Regions from separate parts of the Homo sapiens genome. Here all the other regions are reported to be linked to region 5. Evidence: microRNA targets listed by miRTarBase, many of them from high-throughput screens and not tested one by one. Region 5 holds a microRNA gene; each other region holds the end of a gene's coding sequence.

The links. The annotated mature microRNA hsa-miR-4458 reads AGAGGUAGGUGUGGAAGAA and lies in region 5 at 2,439-2,457, opposite strand. An mRNA with a match to its seed (bases 2 to 7 or 8) in the 3' UTR can be bound and repressed. Matches are read on the target gene's strand: a 7mer-m8 pairs with bases 2 to 8, a 7mer-A1 pairs with bases 2 to 7 and ends in A, and an 8mer does both.
Region 1: the mRNA of TMED4 is a reported target of hsa-miR-4458. Seed matches in the 3' UTR shown: 7mer-A1 at 3,427-3,433.
Region 2: the mRNA of USP38 is a reported target of hsa-miR-4458. Seed matches in the 3' UTR shown: 7mer-m8 at 661-667.
Region 3: the mRNA of AQP6 is a reported target of hsa-miR-4458. Seed matches in the 3' UTR shown: 7mer-m8 at 1,013-1,019.
Region 4: the mRNA of MARCKSL1 is a reported target of hsa-miR-4458. Seed matches in the 3' UTR shown: 7mer-m8 at 1,017-1,023.

Annotation. Positions count from the first base shown.
Region 1 is chr7:44,576,019-44,580,169 of GRCh38, forward strand. TMED4 (transmembrane p24 trafficking protein 4) reads right to left here. Exons shown (of 5, transcript NM_182547.4): 5 at 1,876-3,610. The coding sequence ends at 3,461. Among named protein-coding and RNA genes, the nearest start is that of TMED4, 4.1 kb to the right of the region's middle.
Region 2 is chr4:143,219,983-143,224,016 of GRCh38, forward strand. It overlaps USP38 (ubiquitin specific peptidase 38), which reads left to right. Exons shown (of 10, transcript NM_032557.6): 10 at 313-3,892. The coding sequence ends at 474. Among named protein-coding and RNA genes, the nearest start is that of USP38, 37 kb to the left of the region's middle.
Region 3 is chr12:49,975,307-49,979,379 of GRCh38, forward strand. AQP6 (aquaporin 6) reads left to right here. Exons shown (of 4, transcript NM_001652.4): 4 at 159-1,833. The coding sequence ends at 365. It overlaps LOC105369764 (a long non-coding RNA gene), which reads right to left and starts at 199. Exons shown (of 3, transcript XR_001749143.2): 1 at 1-199.
Region 4 is chr1:32,331,197-32,335,347 of GRCh38, reverse strand. It overlaps MARCKSL1 (MARCKS like 1), which reads left to right. Exons shown (of 2, transcript NM_023009.7): 2 at 251-1,509. The coding sequence ends at 751. It overlaps HDAC1 (histone deacetylase 1), which reads right to left. Exons shown (of 14, transcript NM_004964.3): 10 at 3,766-3,874; 11 at 3,542-3,672; 12 at 3,106-3,258; 13 at 2,599-2,647; 14 at 1,722-2,331. The coding sequence ends at 2,304. Among named protein-coding and RNA genes, the nearest start is that of MARCKSL1, 3.0 kb to the left of the region's middle. RefSeq lists a silencer at 1-293.
Region 5 is chr5:8,459,239-8,463,389 of GRCh38, reverse strand. MIR4458 (microRNA 4458) reads right to left here and starts at 2,465; the gene lies at 2,391-2,465. It overlaps MIR4458HG (MIR4458 host gene), which reads right to left. Exons shown (of 2, transcript NR_039989.1): 2 at 294-3,457.

The DNA.
Region 1 (4,151 bases), not on the chromosome of region 5:
TCTCACAGCCACCAGCTATTGGCCCATCCACTGACTATCCCAATTCCACCTGCCTTATCAGTGGAAAGGTGAAATGTATGCCCACTTTTTCCTCACACCATTCCCCTTTCTATCAAAAACTACCAAGAGAAACCCAGGACCTACCAAAATAGTTAAGATGTGCTCCACTGTGTCTACTGCCAGCCAAACCTGTTGAAGGCTGGCTCAACCCTAATCTGTGCCTTCCTGTCTTCTCACAAACGTAGTCTGATTTGCTGGCTAGATTTCTAGTAACAGCCACAGAGCAGAAATGTGTCCCTTCCCAATATGTCACATAATCCCCAAGAGCCTCAGGCCAGAAGTCCACAACATGTAACTAGTTCAAAGGATAAAATTTTTCTCTGCATTAATTCTAACATGAGGAATACTGAAAACTCTTTTAAACATCTGAAGAATTTCAGCAATTCACAATTCACCTTACTGGAGTGTTACACTGTCATCCAGATTTAGAAACAGGAGGATATAAAACTATTAAATGGAAAAGCCTAGAGAACTAAATTGCATTTTTTTTTTTTTTTCTGAGACAGAGTCTCCCTCTGCCCCCCAGGCTGGAGTGCAGTGGCTCGATTTCTGCTCACTGCAACCTCCTCCCGGGTTCAAGCGATTCTCCTGCCTTAGCTTCCTGAATAGCTGGGATTACAGGCACACACTACCATGCCTGGCTAATTTTTATACTTTTAGTAGAGAGGGGTTTTCACCATGTTGGCCAGCCTGGTCTCAAACTGCTGACCTCAGGCGATCCCCCTGCCTTGGCCTCCCAAAGTGCTGGGATTATAGGCGTGAGCCACCCCACCTGGCCCTAAATTGCATTTTTTTTTTTGTTTTTTTTTTTCAGATGGGATCACTGTTGCCCAGACTGGAGTGCAGTGGCACGATCATGGCTCACCGCAGCCTTGACCTCCCGGGCTCAAGTGATCTTTCCACCTCAGCCTCTCAAGTAGCTGGGACTATAGGCATGTGCCACCAGCTAAATTTTTTGTATTTTTTGCAGAGACAAGATTTCGCCATGTTGCCCAGGCTGGTCTCGAACTCCTGGGCTATAGGGATCCACCCACCTTGGCTTCCCAAAGTGCTAGGATTACAGGCGTGAGCCACCGTGCCCAGCCCACATGTATTTTTAAGAGTAAAAATAGCCAGGCACAGTGGAGTATACCTGTAGTACCAGCTACTTGGGAGGGTAAGGTAGGAGGATCACTTGAACCTGGGAGCTCAAGGTTGCTTTGAGCTGTGATGGCACCACTGCACTCCAGCCTTGGGGACAGAGCAAGACCCCATCACCTGTGCCCGGCCAGCTCACACCTGTAATCCCAGCACTTTGGGAGGCGAGACGGGTCACCTGCGGTCAGGAATTCAAGACCAGCCTGGTCAACATGGTGAAACCCTGTCTCTACTAAAAATACAAAAATTAGCTGGGCATGGTGGCGGGCGCCTATAATCCCAGCTACTCGGGAGTCTGAGGCAGGAGAATCTCTTGAACTCAGGAGGTGGAGGTTGCAGTGAGCCAAGATTGCACCACTGCACTCCAGCCTGGGCGACAGAGTGAGACTCCATCTCAAAAATAAATAAATGAATAAGATAAAATAAAAATACAAAAATTAGCCGGGTGTAGTGGTGGGTGTCTGTAATCCCAGCTACTCAGAAGTTGAGGCAGAACTGCTTGAACCCGGGAGGCAGAGGTTGCAGTGAGCCAAGATCATGCCACTGCACTCCAGCCTGGGCGACAGAGCAAGACTGTCTCAAAAAATAAAATAAATAAAAATTTTAAAAATACATAAATATATATATAAATAGGTACATATATGGTATAGGACATAAGAAATAACAAAAGGAGAAGAATTTAGTTCTGTAGGTCAGATAATTTAATAAATATTTCAAATAAATATATAATAAAAACTGAAATAAAATGTCAAGAATGGGGAACTAATGGTATTAAGTTTTATATAGAAGGGCATGAGGGAAGTGTATTAAAATTTGTTCAAATTTATGACTGAGAGGGCTAAGAAGGTACTTAATTTCCTCAGATGATACTTTGCGAACATGTGGTCTATTTGGTTGACCTTTGCAAATAGTTGAACAACCACACCGTGTATTCCCATACCCCCTAGACTGCCTGTCCAGGCCAAGCCTTAGTACCACGAGTCCACAGTGAAGTCCACTCCAGGTTATCTGCATAGGTAGCCCAGGCACCTTTCCTCTTTTCCTTTAGGTGCCTCCCCTCTACCCACAACCTCTTATTTCATCTCAAACACAGCTATTACAACATGTTTTATTTCACTGGAAAATTCTGTAAAGAACTAAATCTGGTTCCCTTGAAGAAAACATTTAGCACAGCTTAAATAAAAGTTGAGAAGGAGGGTAAGAGTGCATTGCCCCATTCTAGCTCTGTTGCTACCTTACCTCTGACTCTAAGGCCCTGTGGGATGAAAAGCAGGTATCCAAAAGAACTCTGCTTGGCCCTCTGATACGGCCTTGAGGTCAGCCCTGGTGCCTGCTTTCTGGCCCACAGACCGCTGAAATCCTAGGAGCTGCCATGGGAGTTACCAAAAATATGTGAATAAACTGAATGCAGAGGCTGAGGCAGGTGGATCAACTGAGGTCAGGAGTCTAAGACCAGCCTGGCCAACATGGTAAAACCCCATCTCTACTAAAAATACAAAAATTAGCTGAGCGTGGTGGCGGGCACCTGTAATCCCAGCTACTCAGGAGACTGAGGCAGGAGAATCATTTGAACCCGGGAGGCAGATGTTGCCAGTGAGCTGAGATCACGCCATTGCACTCCAGCCTGGGCGACAAGAGCAAAACTCAAAAAAAAAAAAAAAAAAAAAAAAGGAAAAACAAAACCCAGAATGCAGAAACTGCATTGGTATTTTGAGCTAGTTACAGGCAGTAACACTTCTACTAGGAAGGAAAATATATAATTTATCCAAAAATAGTTCTAAGATTTAGAAAAACATCTCAATCCTCTAGGGCCAAGACCTGCCCCTTATTTACATTCACAAAGCCATTAAGTGAACCCAGAACTGACCAGCAGACAGTGAGGCAGGGCCTGCTCTGTGGCACATGCCAGTCACCTACTGCGTAAGTGGACAAAGAGAAAGCAGAAGGTAATGGAGAGAGTTTTCATTTGCTTATTTAGTGAAAAACAGAGGAAAATCACTCGAGGCAAAAGAAGCAGGACTGAGTCCTGGGTTAGTTCTGATTCCTCACAAGCCCTAAGACAAGATTTTGAAAGATTGGACTAATGTCATGTGTCCTTAAGAACCAGGGTCAGCAAGTGGCTGATCTGAATGGTTTGTGGCCATGGAACCAATGTGACTTATTCTTTTTCATTTTTTTCCCTAAAAATCCAGGTGGATAAAGGACTGTGTGGGGAAAGTACCAAATAAATGAGGTAAAAAGGAAGGGTCATACAAAGAGGGCACTACACCAGCTTCTTGGCCTCAAAGAAGCTCTTGAGGTGACGCATCTGCCAGATGCCAGTGAGGATGAGGATGACAGTCTGAGCAATGGACCACCATAGGACCCTCTGGTTGGTGCTCTCGCTCGTCAGTCGGAAGCGCTCTTCACGATACTGTGTGGGGCAACACAGGGTTAAGTGAGCAGGAGAAACAGTCTGGCTGTTGTGAGGTCCCTCCCTGCGTGTAATTACTCAACTCCAGGACCAAACTCCTTTTGGAATACTATCTGTGACTCCATTAGGAGTGCTATGGTCTCCCCACTGAGGCTGCCCCAAGAAAGGGACAGGCTGTCCCTCCACAAGCATCTCTGTTAGGACTGAAATCATGATCCTACCATTTCCAACAAGAGTCCAAGAAAAACAGGTAGGCAATGGCTATTACTAGATTGTGAACTGTCCTTTCTTCATTTTATTTTATAGAGCTTAAAAATGACTACTGAAAGCGAAATGTGGCACATGCATACAATGGAATATTAGCCTTAAGAAATTCTGACACATGCTATAACATGGATGAACTGTGAGAACATTATACTCAGTGAAATAAGCCAGTCACAAAAGGACAAATACTGAATGATTCCACTTATATGAGATAGGGTAGTCAGGATCATAGAGACAGAAAGTAGAATGGTGGGTGTCAGGACAAAAGGAAACGGGA
Region 2 (4,034 bases), not on the chromosome of region 5:
ACATTTAACTGTAATCACCCACTTCCAAAATAGCCCCAATTGCTGGAGAATAGATAATCTATTGTGATAATCTTTGAATTCTATGTTAAATATATTAGAAAAGAATCTATTCCAGTATGTTTTAGAGAGTGTTGCAGGAACTGTAATATTTTCTTAGAGAAATTTTTTTTTCTTAGGTGCTTTAGTTTCAAAGTTATTGAGATTTGAAGAATGTTTATAAGGATTAAGGTAGTTTTAAAATATTTCTATAGGTGATATAACGATCCATTGTATTTAGCATTTTAATTTCATAAAAGTTATTTTTAATTTTAGGAACAAGAGTTGAATGCTCGAGCCCGGGCCCTCCAAGCTGCATCTGCTTCATGTTCATTTCGGCCCAATGGATTTGATGACAACGACCCACCAGGAAGCTGTGGACCAACTGGTGGAGGGGGTGGAGGAGGATTTAATACAGTTGGCAGACTCGTATTTTGATCCTGAGAGAGTCCAAAATGCACTGGTCACGAAACGTCTAATACTATGACTGTTAAAATGTCAGACTATAACAAATATCTATCTTTTATTTTTCATTAGACCCTTATACTTCAAGAGAACACACTCAGTGCTTGTTTTTATTTTCTTGACACATTTATTAACAAAATGCATCATGGAAAAAAAAATCTACCTCTTAAAATTCCATTTGCTTTTATGGTTAGACATGCTTGACCAAAAATGTTCAGAAGAAAATATGTACCTGGTCCCTAATTAAGCTGCGTTAAATTTGGTAGAAGCATTTAAATGGTCTATCTTCAGTTTTACTGAACAAAAAATGTAATTTATTTAGCATTCTTTATAAAAGAATTGATGCTAGAGGTAAAAAAAAATACTTGTTTTTAAAAAATCCTTTACGTCTTGTGTAATTACCCCATTATTAAATTCAAGTCCTTGAAAATCAACTAGAGATTATAAAGTCTCTAAAGAAGGCAATAACAAAATTTATCAAGATATAGTACTTTTCAGTTTTTGTTTAGTGTCTTCAGCATCACTGTGTCTGTATTTCAAGTACAAATGTTTTTAAAAAGGATTCTTTATACATATGTGCTGAATTGATTTTAAGAAAGTTGCATGATCCTGTAGGAGCAACATTTTTACCTAAAAAATGCTAACTTTATAGTATTTCTAATTGTTCAAGGATTTTAAAATTCTATTTCAGGGAGTATATCTTCTGTGGTTTTGAAGGAGGTGAGTTCTGTATGTGCCTTGCAGTACTGTAATTCAAAAATAGGAATCTTTGGCTGCAAAATTTTAATGAAATGTTAGGAAGTAATTTTCGTGCTAACATTAAAATTATAACTTTTTGAAAGGTAATAGATTTTCCAGAAGTAAAATCTGATGGTTCTAAATCAATCAATGTGATAGTTCATTTTTAACTCTTAGAAGAATTCAGAGGAAATTAACCCAGCTAAGTAAAAAATCTGTCTTGATTTTGTTACTTATTCCTCAGAATATTAAACATTGATCACATATTTTTAGAGTTTTACATTTGGGTTTTTTGTTTGTTTGTTTCAGTCATATGTTTGGCACTGTTGTTTCTATTTTCGTAGTTTTAGATAAAATGTTAAAATGCCAAACCCTACCTTCCTACACTTTTTCTTTTGCCAGGAAACTGGAAACATGTCAGTTCTCCTGGTTCTTGATTATACAGTACTCAAGAGTTATCCCAGTTATCCCCCTTCCTAAAGGTTTTAACTTATCCACAGTTGTGCATTGTTCTGAAGATTGGTCTCATATTTATTTTGAAAACACTTTAAGGAAACAATGTTCTTCGATGATTTGGGGTTTATCTTTTTCCCAAGCTTTTATGACAGTGGTTAAAAAACAGAAATCCTCATGTTTATTCCATTACCTCCCATTCCTAACCTGTTTCCAATCACCAGGAAGATTAGGAAGGCAGATTAGATTAAAAACTGAAAATTCTTTGCAGATTTAATGAAGGTTCTCCTCCTTATAAATGAATGAACCAGTTATCATGCTTTTCTGTGGTTTTCCTATCCCAATAGTGAATTTCTGAGCTATCCTGTGTGTTCAGTTATCCACTTACTTGATAGCAACTTACGACCAGATTATATCAGTCTTGGCATTTATTGAAATTGGTAAAGTGATTTAATACTTGATAGATTGATATTGGGCTAAGATGCTTCTAGGAACTTTCATAAAAGCAATTATACTTGTGCAGCTTTATCTATGAATATCAGGTCTCTCAAGGATTTTATGTATCAAGATAATATGTATTGACTTTTTTAAATGATAAAATGAATTCTAGTTAGAGTCTTTCCTTGGTATCTGCAGTGGATTGGTTCCAGAACACCATCCCCCAATATTAAAATCCACAGATACTCAAGTCCCTTATTTATATAAAATAGCACAGTATTTGCATATAACCTGTGCACATCCTCCCATATACTTTAATCTCCAGATGATTAGATATGATTGCATAGCACTTACGTTGTGCTATGTAGTTGTTATATTGTTTTTTCATTTGTACTATTTTTTATGATATTTATTGGTTTTTTAAATTTTCTATCCAAAGTTGTTTGAATCTAAGGATACAGAGCCTGAGGATATGGAAAGCTGACTAAATATAGTAACACTGAAGAGTATTCAAATGATAACTCATACCAGTACCAAAAACTTGAAGACTTCCTTTTAACATTAAAAATACAGTAACTTTTTACGTGATTTGTTGAATTCAACATATTTGGAACCAGAATAATCAGAAACTTCATTCAAAACCTATGCATCTGAACTTTTTTAGTAAGGTAATACTCAGGACTGTTCTGATTCTAACAGATCCCTGTTAATTACAGATTTATTTGTCATATTAGGTCTTTTCTTTCTCCCATATTCCTAACCCGTGTACTAGCTCCAACTGTTGTGAGGTTTGACTCTGAAGACTGAGTAGAGTACTATTGTTGTTTTTCTTTCCTTAGTCAGAGTAATCAGTTTAAATGAAGTTGCTCATTGCTGCTAAGAAGCATTAGGCTTCACTGCTAGCAAAAATGAAAAACTACAAATCTGAGTCTTTCTTTCAAAGATGTTTATTGACATAATTAAAGTAAAAAATTGTTTAGAGATATGCAAAGAAGGAAATATATATGATGTCACACAAGCTCCAGTAAGCTATCCACTAAGCAGGTGCCTGTGCAACTCTGATTTATGGCATTAACATATCAAATTGAAGGAAGGATTCTAGCTCATTTTCCATTCAAGCATCTTCCCACTGCCTCTCTTCCAGCTAAATAATCAGAGAAGCAGGGCAGTATATCCCTGGAGATCCCTGACTTTTATCTCCATACCTTAAATTGTTGGTAGATCCTTTGGATGTAGAGATAAAAATTCATTATGATGCTAGAGGCATTGGGGGGTCCATGCGAAAGGTTCAAACAGCCTATTACATTAATGCACATGTGGAAAGAACAAAAATTTTCAAGCTAAGTCTTAAGTTCAAATCTATAATTTTTTTCTCTTCAGTTCTGTTCTTTGTATGATAATCCTTAAAAAAGTAGTTGTCTTCTTTTCACATACACCTCTTTAAAGCTATCATCTTATAATAAGTGGAATTGGATGCTTATTGTGTGCCCAGCACAGTTTAGGAAAAAAATAATTGGCACTGTTTGTCCAGTTACTGGAGATCTTCATTTTGATGCTTTGTACTTTGTTCCAGGTCTTTAATTCTCAGTCCATCTTTTCCTATGATTGTGTACTTCACATGATACATTCCATATAAAGAGCTCTTTTAAAATGACTATTTCAAAAATACTGTACATTTATATATAGTATTTTTTCTCATAAAAATGTGATAGTTTATATATCCTTTCATCATACGTTTTTTCTAATGAGTTTAGATTTCTGAAACTAAATATTCCTGAAGTAGAGAAGAGTAAGTTATTCACATTTTACAAAAACATACTAGGAAATGCTAACTGGTTATTATTAGCAACTCAGTAACATCAGAGGAGTAAGGTTAAATCTTAGATAATGCAAACCTGTAACTA
Region 3 (4,073 bases), not on the chromosome of region 5:
TTGGGAAACACGACTCGTGGTTCTCAAATTTAGCACCTTACAGACAGTTGAGGGAGACCTGGGAGATCAAGTCGGCACTGGGGAAGCAGGCAGCGGTCCCAGAGCCACCCTGTGGTCCTGATAGCTCCTGGGTGGGGTGACGACATCCTTCTCCTCAGGTCTTCTGGGTGGGGCCCCTGATGGGAGCCCTCCTGGCCTCACTGATCTACAACTTCGTCCTGTTCCCCGACACCAAGACCCTGGCGCAGCGGCTGGCTATCCTCACAGGCACCGTAGAGGTGGGGACAGGGGCAGGGGCAGGGGCGGAGCCCCTGAAGAAGGAATCCCAGCCGGGTTCGGGAGCCGTGGAGATGGAGAGTGTGTGAAACAGCCTACGCCTGGCCGCGCCCTTGGGCTTCCTGCCTTGCAGGACCTGCCTGGAGGTTCTCCCTGGGGGTGGCGGGAGGGGGAGGCTTGACCTTTTGTCCTGACCAGGTGGGCTGGAGGGGACAAGCCCTATCCCTGGCATTACGTTTCTAGGTAGAATCTGGGAGTGAATTTGTCCCATTCCCTCTCTGTAGGGCTTCCCCACCTCTCGGTGGGACAGAGCAGAGGAAGGCAGGGGATTTAGGATCGCCCTCCCATCCTCTCACCCACTGGACCCCGTAGGAGTCCTGACCCCAGATGCCCAAGTCTTGGGGGAGAAAGGAATGGGAGCCCAGACAGCCACTCTGCTTAGACATGGGAGCTATAGGGACCTCAGGGAGCCCCAGCTTCTTACCCACCCAGGAAACCCTTGGTCCAGAGAGGACAGGCTTTCTGGAGGAATCAGGCCCTGGGACAGCCTCTGAGCTCCTGGGGGTGTTTCTCTGACCTTGGGTGTGGTTTTGGGGGCTATATTTCCTCCTTCAGACTGGGGGCTTCCTGAGGACAGAGACTGCTCTACCAATAGATCTTTGTTTGTTTTGAGACAGAATCTTGATCTGTTACCCAGGCTGGAGTGCAGTGGCATGATCTCGGCTCACTGCAACCTCTACCTCCTGGGTTCAAGGGATTCTCCTGCCTCAGCCTCCCAAGTAGCTGGGATTACAGGCGCCTGCCACCACGCCCAGCTAATTTTTTGTATTTTTAGTAGAGATGGGGTTTCATCATATTGGTCAGGGTGGTCTCAAACTCCTGACCTGAGGCGATCTGCCCACCTCGGCCTCCCAAAGTGCTGGGATTACAGGCGTGAGCCACCGTGCCCGGCCTCTCCCAATAGGTCTTTATTCCTCAATCCTCCAAATGCTCTGGAGAGGCCCCCACCCTTGAGAAGAACTGACACAGAGAAGAACATTTTCTCAGGCTCGTAGAGAGGTGGGATAGAGGAAGGGAGGTTTGAGCCAGACAGGCCTTTCCCAGGGAAGCCTCCTCCCAGGTGCTTGCCCCAGCTCCCACCCCACAGCCCACTCTCAGGCAGGAACAATCCTCAGAGGGGAAGTGCCCATCTAGCCATTGACTCATGACCTGGGTCAAAGAAGCCGTCTCCAGGCTCTCTGTCAGCATTACAGGATCCCCAGAAAGCTGTTGAATAAGCCCTAAGGGTGGTAGGAACCCAGGAGGGACCCAGGAAACTAAGATTTGAGATTCAGTGCCTCTGAAAGACTACCAAAATCTAAGTTGGTTTAATAGTTAAAAGCTGCTGTAGATTTATTCTGCCCACAACTTGGGGGTCCTTTCTGGATCTCGGCTTCTCCAGCTGTAAAATGGACACACAATCCTCCTCCAGGGACTGCTGTGAAATCAAGAAATCGGAAAATACTTTCAGAAGTTAAAATGCTAGAAAAACAACCCCAATAAATGATGATTATTGTTGCTGTTACTGTAATTATTGGGTATGAAGACAATTGCTGTTGGTAATGAGAGGGAGGAGGGGAAAAGAGAGAGAGAAAGATGATTGAGAGGGAGGGAAGAGAGACTGGGTTTTCTCTCACATCATTGGATCTACTTAACCAGGGACCCTGTGTGCTCTTCTCCTGGGTCTGCTGACCTTGAGGCTTTGTGGGTGTGAGGGGCTGTGGGAGGGCCCTGGAATGAAGAGGCGAACCAATAAAATCAGTTCTTCTCATCTCTATGACGCCCATCACCATGGTACCCTAAGATGCAGCAGCCAAATTCATATAAAAGATGGGTCCTGGCGGCCAGGCACGGTGGCTCACGCCTGTAATCCCAGCACTTTGGGAGGCTGAGGCGGGCAGATCACGAGGTCAGGAGATCGAGACCATCCTGGCCAACATGGTGAAACCCTGTCCCTACTAAAATATAAAAAATTAGCCGGGCGTGGTGGCGCGTGATTGTAGTCCCAGCTACTTGGGAGGCTGAGGCAGGGGAATCACTTGAACCCGGAAGGTAGAGGTTTCAGTGAGCCAAGATCACGCCACTGCACTCCAGCCTGGTGACAGAGCAAGACTCTGTCTCAAAAAAAAAAACAAAAAAAACAAAACAAAAGATGGGTCCTGGCCTGGTGCAGTGGCTCCCACCTGTAATCCTAACACTTTGGGAGGCCAAAGTGGGAGGATCGCTTGAGGCCAGGAGTTCGAGACCAGCCTGGACAACATGGCAAAACCCTGCCTCTACAAAAAATTAAAAACTTAGCCAGGCATGACGGCTCAAACCTGTAATCACCAACATGTTGGGTGGCCCAAGCAGGAGGATTGCTTGAGGCCAGGAGTTTGAGACCATCCTGGGCAGCATAGTGAAACTTCATCTCTATTATTTAAAATGAAAAATTAATTAAATTAAAATACAAACAAAAGATAGATCCTTTTTAGTGATGTCTCCTGAGGGACTGGGGATGGGGGAAAGGCTGCCCAAGTCTTCCAAGGGCAGTGTGGCAGGCCCAGCCTGTGACCAGTGCAGTAGCTGAATCCCTGGTGCTCATAGCCCCAGTAGCTGTGCTCAGCGTTCTGTAATATCAGCGCAGATACTACTCACATCTCTCCAAGCTGGGCCCCACTCATCCATCTTCACAATCTCTCAGAGTCCAAGGCTGCCTGTGTCCTTTTATGAGCAGGGAGAGCTGGGTGTCTGTATGTATGCATGTATGAGAGCGTATGTGTAAACAGAGGACATGATTGACTTGCTCAAGGTCACCTGGTTCAGGAGCACGAACACTTAAGGTCTCCCCAGCTCCCAGTTGAGAATTTTCCAAAATAGAGCTCCTGGGGGGTTCATACAAGCTGCAGCCCCAGGAAGGAAGGAAACAGGAACTAGAGGATTGAAGGGGATGGGGGCGTGGAGCTCCTATGGTAGGCTCTTAAGCTCCTTGACAAATGATCACTGCTTTTTGTCCCCAGAGCCAAGCACACACTGGGTGCTCAATATAAGTTTGATGAATGAATAAGGCTGGGCAGTTGGGGAGGATGGGAGGCAGTAATAGATCAAGAGGAGAAAATTTCAGGAGTTACAGCTCCAAATAAGCCAGTATGACAGCAGCTGAGAAGCCTATGCTTCCAGGCAGGGGCTGGGGAGAGGGTGCATCGCCAGATATTTGCTGTTCCACCCACAATTTCAGAGCAGGCTTCACAATGTCTGTCCCAGGAACATACAGGCCAAAATATGAGGGGTTGCCTGAAGAGAAAGCTGAGGGGCTATTTTCACTAACAGTTCTTCAAAGCAGTTCTGTCAGGACAGAGCAGGAGGAAATAAGTTTCCTGAGAAGTGGGGAATTAGGTTAGCCTCTGAAGAGCATCCAAGGTTAGACGTGGAAATAAGTAACCAAAGGTTCGCTTCCCCTCCTCTGGAGCCCTTTAATAGGACAGCAGGCCATCTGTTTGGATGAGGGAAGGGCTGGCCTTTGGAGAGCTGAATCTCAGTAGCTCCAGCTGGGGGAAGCAGGCTTCATTGGCATAGCCCCTGGGCCTGGGTGGGGGCAGGGGACATGGGGAGGACAGAGACCCAACCAGGCCAGCCCTTGGTGTGCATTCCCTTCCTCCTGTTTGTCAGGGAAGTTTTTAATTAATGGTGTATAATCTGATCTGACCCTTCTCCCTGCTGAGCACTGCCTTCAATCAGTGGAGCCATCTGCAATTGCAATTCATAATTCTCCCCAAAGG
Region 4 (4,151 bases), not on the chromosome of region 5:
GGGGGACGGGGGTGGGGGCCACGGGACCCCAGCGCCTCCTGCCGGTCGCGCCCTCTGCGCGCTCGCTCCCCGCGCGCCCGTGAGGGGCGAGAGGGAGGTGTTTGACGGGATCCTGGGTGTGGGTGAGGCTGAAGCCAGACTTTCGGGTTGCAGTAGAATCGAATCGAGGACCCCTTCCTCTAGAAGGGATCAGAAGCGGGCTGGGGGAGGGGGAGCCCCTGCCCTCATTGCTATTCCCTCTGCCCTGCAGGAGAATGGCCACGTGAAAAGCAATGGAGACTTATCCCCCAAGGGTGAAGGGGAGTCGCCCCCTGTGAACGGAACAGATGAGGCAGCCGGGGCCACTGGCGATGCCATCGAGCCAGCACCCCCTAGCCAGGGTGCTGAGGCCAAGGGGGAGGTCCCCCCCAAGGAGACCCCCAAGAAGAAGAAGAAATTCTCTTTCAAGAAGCCTTTCAAATTGAGCGGCCTGTCCTTCAAGAGAAATCGGAAGGAGGGTGGGGGTGATTCTTCTGCCTCCTCACCCACAGAGGAAGAGCAGGAGCAGGGGGAGATCGGTGCCTGCAGCGACGAGGGCACTGCTCAGGAAGGGAAGGCCGCAGCCACCCCTGAGAGCCAGGAACCCCAGGCCAAGGGGGCAGAGGCTAGTGCAGCCTCAGAAGAAGAGGCAGGGCCCCAGGCTACAGAGCCATCCACTCCCTCGGGGCCGGAGAGTGGCCCTACACCAGCCAGCGCTGAGCAGAATGAGTAGCTAGGTAGGGGCAGGTGGGTGATCTCTAAGCTGCAAAAACTGTGCTGTCCTTGTGAGGTCACTGCCTGGACCTGGTGCCCTGGCTGCCTTCCTGTGCCCAGAAAGGAAGGGGCTATTGCCTCCTCCCAGCCACGTTCCCTTTCCTCCTCTCCCTCCTGTGGATTCTCCCATCAGCCATCTGGTTCTCCTCTTAAGGCCAGTTGAAGATGGTCCCTTACAGCTTCCCAAGTTAGGTTAGTGATGTGAAATGCTCCTGTCCCTGGCCCTACCTCCTTCCCTGTCCCCACCCCTGCATAAGGCAGTTGTTGGTTTTCTTCCCCAATTCTTTTCCAAGTAGGTTTTGTTTACCCTACTCCCCAAATCCCTGAGCCAGAAGTGGGGTGCTTATACTCCCAAACCTTGAGTGTCCAGCCTTCCCCTGTTGTTTTTAGTCTCTTGTGCTGTGCCTAGTGGCACCTGGGCTGGGGAGGACACTGCCCCGTCTAGGTTTTTATAAATGTCTTACTCAAGTTCAAACCTCCAGCCTGTGAATCAACTGTGTCTCTTTTTTGACTTGGTAAGCAAGTATTAGGCTTTGGGGTGGGGGGAGGTCTGTAATGTGAAACAACTTCTTGTCTTTTTTTCTCCCACTGTTGTAAATAACTTTTAATGGCCAAACCCCAGATTTGTACTTTTTTTTTTTTTCTAACTGCTAAAACCATTCTCTTCCACCTGGTTTTACTGTAACATTTGGAAAAGGAATAAATGTCGTCCCTTTAGTGGTGCTTTAATGAGTGGTCTTCTGGGGGTAGGGTGAGAAGATTGGTGGAAAGTAGTTTACCTCAAACCTCAAGGGAGGAGTTAAGGCAGGCAGGTAAGTTTATGGGGTTTTCTTGTTCAGGGGGTTGCCCCAATACTCATGGACACCAGAACGGCAGGGAAGTAGAGTTGAAACCAACCCAGGGACACATAGGAAACAAGCTCAGGAGGATATAGAAATGTACCATTTTATTACAAAGAGGCTCACAAAAATGAAAATAGTATCTCAAAAAGGAAACTAGACTAGCAACCTCCACCTGCAGAATTAGGAGAAGACAGACAGAGGGCAGGCAGTGTTTCTTGGCTCACTTGAGGCCAGTGGGAAGGTACGAAAACAGAACCAATCTAAAAATGGCTGATGTTACTTTAGGAGCCTGAAAAAAACAGGAGATCCTTGAAGACCCAGCCACCCCTTCTAGAATGTTCAATAAGGGCACCTTTCCAAAGCTACTAAGCAGGCACTTGGCATTTCAGGAGTTTGTCTTATGGTTGCATAAAAGTATCCCTTTCACCCAGACCTGGCACCCTTTATGGTTCAAAGTTAAGAACGGGAAGAATGGGTGGCAAGGTGGCTCCTGGAAGAGCTCACCCAGCACAGCTGCCCTGAGCTCGGGGCCTTGGTTTCTGTCCCTGGGGATATTTATATTTAATAAATTTTTATATAAATACACAGAGAAATAGAAAATATAAAATCTGAGGGGTTGGGGAAGAAACGTGAGGGACTCAGCAGGAAGCCAGAGCTGGAGAGGTCCATTCAGGCCAACTTGACCTCCTCCTTGACCCTGTGGAGAGAGCAGAGACTGGCATGAGATGACCCAGCCCAGAGCCTCAGGGCAAAAGTGCAGACAGTGACTTCCACAGGATCCTAGGTGACTACTGGGGGCTGGGGCTCCTAGCTCTGCCTAGAACTGCAGAGCTGGACAGACTGGTCCCTGAAAGAGGCCTTTGTAAGCTGGACCAGCTGTCCCTGTGCCTTTCCTCAGAGTGGTGGGACAAAGGGGCTGGTGCTCCAATGCCAGGGAGATGGCCACAGGCAGCTCCTTCCTCACCCTTTGGCTTCTGGCTTCTCCTCCTTGGTTTTCTCCTCTTCGGTGACTTCTAGAACACAAGAGTACAGGGATGGCCAAGGGCAGCACCTCTGGGAAGACCCATGAGGTCTTCATTTACCCTGAGACCCCTTCCCCAACACTACAGCTCACTGGACATAAAGAGAGAAAAGCCCATCCCTGGTCCTCCCAGTGAGCCCTGTTGAGAACAGGTTGGACTGGTTTCCCAGCCTGCTACAGCCAGAACCTGGTGGGCGGAGGCAGCCCCCTGGGAAACTGGGGTGCAGTGCTGGGAAAAGGGCTGGGGTGGTATGTGAGAGCCGTGCTCAGGCAGTAGAGGTTCATTGTTTTGTGGGCTCTGCCACTTCTGGGAGCCACTGAAAGGCTCAAGGAACTGAGGAAGAGCCCCACAGGAGCTGGCAGGGCCTGAGTCACTCCCTCCTCCCACTGCCCTACATAGATTCATCCTCTCAGGCTCGAGACCCAAGTCCCAGCTGAACCCAAACCCACCTTTCTTCTCCTCTGGGTCTTTCTCTTTTTCATCCTCTGTTTTGACTCTCTTGGCTTTTTTGAAGTTGGAAGAGTTCTTGCGGCCCCCCTCTCCCTCCTCTTCAGAATCGGAGAACTCTTCCTCACAGGCAATTCGTTTGTCAGAGGAGCAGACTGGGAGGGAGTGGGAAGCATGGGTGAGAGGGCAGGCGGGTGCTGATTTAGCTCAGCATCTATGCCCAGTGCTTCCCTGCGTGTCCTCCAAGAGACACCAAGGGAAAGGGAACCAGAAGAGGGAGGAACTCGGGCTCCCTAACCTGTTCCTACAGGCACTGGAACTCGAAAACAGATTTCTCTACAGGTGGGGAGCTTGGAGGGAGTGTGCAGCCAGGAATGGTGGTGGAAGTGTGAGCTGCCTATTGAATGGAAGGCATAGGGCTCTAGGTCTGGGTCTCACTCGAGATGCGCTTGTCAGGGTCGTCTTCGTCCTCATCGCCACTCTCCTCAGGGATGGCGTCCTCAGGAATCGCCTGCATTTGGACCCCAGGTGCGTGCGGCAGCATTCTAAGGTTCTCAAACAGTCGCTGTCTGTGGCCAATGGGAGAGAGTAGCAGGGCTCTGGTCAGGGACAAACCAAAGTCAGGAATGTTCAACCAAGGGGTGGCTGGAGGATATACTCACTTGATCTTCTCCAGGTACTCATTCGTGTTCTGGTTAGTCATATTGGAAGGACTGATGTGGAGCTTGAAATCTGGTCCAAAGTATTCAAAGTAGTCATTGTATGGAAGCTCTGATTGGGGCAGGAGAGAAGACCGTCAAGAGACCTGGCCACCGCACCCTAACCATTTGCACGTAAGCACCCTAAAGCATTTGTAGGTTTCTCTGGGCCTATTTATCCAAACAGAGGAGAATGCCTCCAAGACACTGTGAGACACGGGTACCTATGGGATTTCCATCTTTTTAACATCACTCTCCTATGTCTGTACCAGTGGTGTATATGTCGCTAGGAGAAGGCCCATGTCCCTGGTTTAGGACACTTGAGGCCATGCTCATTATGAGCGCTCCCT
Region 5 (4,151 bases):
CTTCTCAGTTCTCCTCCTACTTGACCTATCAACTGTAATAGACTCAGTTGCCCATAAGTTCTTCTTGAAACACTTTATTGTTCTCTAGTGTTTCATATTCTTGAGTTTCCTAACTGGCCATTCGTCTCAGTCTTAGTTGCTACTTCCTCCTCCTCCCAATTTCTCAACCAAAATCCTCCTCCAGCATTCATTTCACCACTCCCTTCAGTATACAACAGAAATATAAACATGTAATGATTGGTGATAATCATGTTCTTGATTCATTTGTGTTTAAAACAACTGAAAAGGAAGAATAAGTTTTAAAACTTTTTATTCAGATTCAGAATATTTTATATTTCAACTAAATTTTAAACTTTCTAAATGAAAGTTTACAACTTGAAGTTCACACTGCTGTATTGCTTTAAAACTTAAAAGCAAATAAACTTTGTCAACTAAAATCAAAGTAACCAATATCTGGCCTGCCTGTCTCTAAGATGGCCATGCTGTCACCGCATTCATTATTCACAGTCAGTGACCCTTAGACCAATGCTTACACAAGATTTCTTTCAAATATGACACTGTGGAGATGGCCACAGGAGGTACTACAAAAACCAAGTGCTCGATTACCACTTAACATGTTCAGCTTGAAATGACTGCTACCTTTGCCTTCAATTCCTTCCCACACACCCAGGTATACAAATATCTTTTATACCAAGAGTCCTTGTGAAAGTAAATAGAGGGAACTCCCAGGGATAAGGGAGGGCAAAAAACAGGAAGCACTTGAAGCCAAAATCTGGAGCAACTTTTAAGAAGGAAGAGACGTCCGTCCTATTTTCATATCTCTGCATGGATCTCCCATGGAGAACTTGAGTTAAATGTAATGATTACACGTGGCAGAAAGACAACTCTCTAGCACAGTGTTTCTTTCACATAGGCTGCTACATTGATTCCATAAGCTCAACAATTTTAATAAAAAATATTTCTGCTAAATACTTTATATTCATCATCATAAAAAATGCACAGCCATTTGAAAAAAGGGCAATTACCCTAAATGAATATTGCCAAAGCACAGATCAACTTTATATAGGATTTCTTTCCTTGTTTCTGAAAAATCGCAAACAGAACTGGCAGACTTTATTTAACAAACATTGATTTTGTCCAGGCATGGAGTTTAAATTTTAGTGCATGTGCTGGAGGCAGGGAGAAGTGATGCGAGAAAGTAAAGCAACGACAGGTCATGCGGGGACCAGTGCTACAAAGAAACTAAAGCCAGGGGAAGGGTTGGGGAGGCATGGAGTGGGGTAGGACTACTAAATTTAGACAGAATGGGGTGCTAGAAAAGGTTGACTATGCTGTGGTAACAAATTAGCCCCTGAACCCCAGCGGTGTAGCATAAGTTTATCTCTTACCCACATTCTACGTCCACCACAGGTCACCAGTGGCTGTGCTCTAGTCATTCAGGGACACAGCTGGATGGAGGCTGCACCATCTGAGACACGGGGCACCTCCCTAGTCCTGCCAGAGCCGCAGTAGCAGTGGACCAGAGCTGGAAAGTCACACATGGAGCCTTAAAGTCTTTAAGCAATAAGCCACAACTAGTACCATGGCCCCACCTACTGCAAGAGGGCTGAGAAATGGGAGGAGTTCATAGCATGAGCAATCAATAACTGTCACTGATATCCAGGGAAGTCGTCTCTGACACAGGGAAATCTAAGCAAAGACCAACTAAAGAAAGAAGCTACACAGAAAGTTGGAGACAGGATGATGTCATTTATGATTCCAAGAAATATTCTGTTTGTCTGCCATTTGTTTCCAGTGAACAACCACATCAAATCTTTAATTTAGATATTTTGATAATTAAATGCATTAAAAATCTGTCTCTATTTCTATGCTTAGTTCAAGTAATAGCTTACCTCAGTGATTTTAACAGTCTTACATACCATATAGTATCACTGCCCTTACATTACATCCTTCAATAATTATCCCCTCCCGAGTAAAATCATAATACAAGGGCTGACAAACTCATTCTTGATTGACACACATCTCGACTCCTCACTCATTTCTTCTCCACATATTATTATTTTCTCATTACTTACCTAAAATTTAACCTTATAGATAATGAAAAGGGTTCTGAACATTAAGAAATAATAGAATAGTTATAAATGGAGGAAAAAGTTTGAATAAAAAAGTTTCTTAAAAGGATAGTGTCACTTGCAAAAATAGCTCTTTGAAATACAGGTTCCTATAAACATTTTACACGCATTAAGATATTACTCTTACACATACTGGTAACACAGACACTATACATATTTGTCTCCATTTTAGGAAGAAATGAAGCAAGGCTATTTTTAATAATAAACTTAGAAACAATTCATAACCCCTAGTATTTGCATTAACCTGCAAATACTAGGCAGCACACCACAGCAGAGTGTAACTAAAACCTAAAATAGTGTTTCACTTTCTTCCACACCTACCTCTGTGCGCTCATGCAAGTGTTTTTATTTTGCTTTGCATTAGATGCTTCTGTAATACAGGCATCTGATTCACCCCACATAAAGCTGTTGTAAGTAATCAATGTGAGAAAGTCTACTTATTGTTAAGCATATTTGTATATTTTTTACTAGTTATTTCATACTTGCCCTGAAAGAATACACATTCAAAAAGCTTGAAATTAGGCAATGTCAGTCTCATCAAACAAAACCAGCATTGGAAGCGAATATTAACAAATATCAGAATGAAATTACAAAATATACATCTCCAGCCTCATAAAACATGAATTTTATAAGCACTTTCATAAACATAAGAAAAATAGCTTTGACAATAACTATTTGAAAACATTATTATTAATAATCTTGTATACTGTACATGTGCACTTAAATGTAATAGCACCAACATTCATTATATTATGAAGGGGATACTTTATAAGAATTATAAATTATTTTTACATGATTAAATAATTTTGGCAGAGTAAGTCCGCAGGACTTAAATAACCAGTCAGCCTTAGTATCTACATCTGGACCAGGAAGCCTTTGTGTTACAGACACAGATTCCCTGTGAAGTTCTCCAGGGTGTAAAGAAGGCCCCAGGGAGGTGCCGACGGGATGTGAGGGCTGCCTTTCAGCTCAGGCGAGCCTGCAAGCAACAGGGCAGTTTGGGAAGGGTCACAGGCACAGGAAGGGAGCAGTGGGCAACCATTGATTACATCAAACCAGGATGGTTTCTTCTTTTTAAAGAAACTTTTGTTGAGTGTTTACCCACCCCCATCCACACAAATATGCTCTCTAGGAAATGTGAAAGTATAAGCTTCAGAAAAATGTTTTTCTCATCCTTTAATTTCTGGTTTTATGATCAAATGTTCCGAAGACACTGCTTCTTTTTGCTCAAAATAGTTGACATTGTCATTGCTTCTAGTTTTTCAGCTCCTACTATGCTTACTATGTCCATGGGTGCCATTGACGTCTTTGGCTATTTATCATCTCTAGAAAAGAAAAAAAAACATTAAAATTTTAGGATGTAGGATTCACAATAAATCTCTTACCAAATCCTCCTTAAATCCCTAAACTCTCTACCTGGCTCTGACTCCAGGATCACCCTTTCAGTTCTTTCCATGTTTTTCTTCGGAAAATGTAGTTTCCTAACCTTTCTACCCACCCTTCTCGTCTACTCTTAGGTCTGCAGCCACAGTGATAGTTCTAAGTTGCAAACCTGATCATGTCCTTCCAGTACTTAGTCTTTCAAAAATCTTCCTACTTCCCGCAGAGTGAAGCCTGAACTCTTTAATAGGCATCTAAGGACTTGGACCCGGATCCTGTTAACCTGTTAATTCATCTTTGCCTCTAACTCCCTCCCTTCATCTTTCAAGGCACAGCGCAGGACTTAACTCATTGTGAAAGTACTAAGCCTTGATGTATCTTTAGGAAAAACACACGTATACACACACACGCATGCAAAGAGAGGAAGCATAGCTTAGTGGTTAACCTACATAGACTGCAACTTGCTTAAATAATCCAGTATTTATCTATGTTTTAATAAAATTGTTTTAATAAAAATATATGAAATTCATCTATCTTTTCTCTGGAATGCTTTTGCCTGTTCAAAGATTATACAATGCTCCCGTATGTTACAGAGGAAGCCGTCCCTTCATTTATAAAAGACAGTTAACACATAGCACA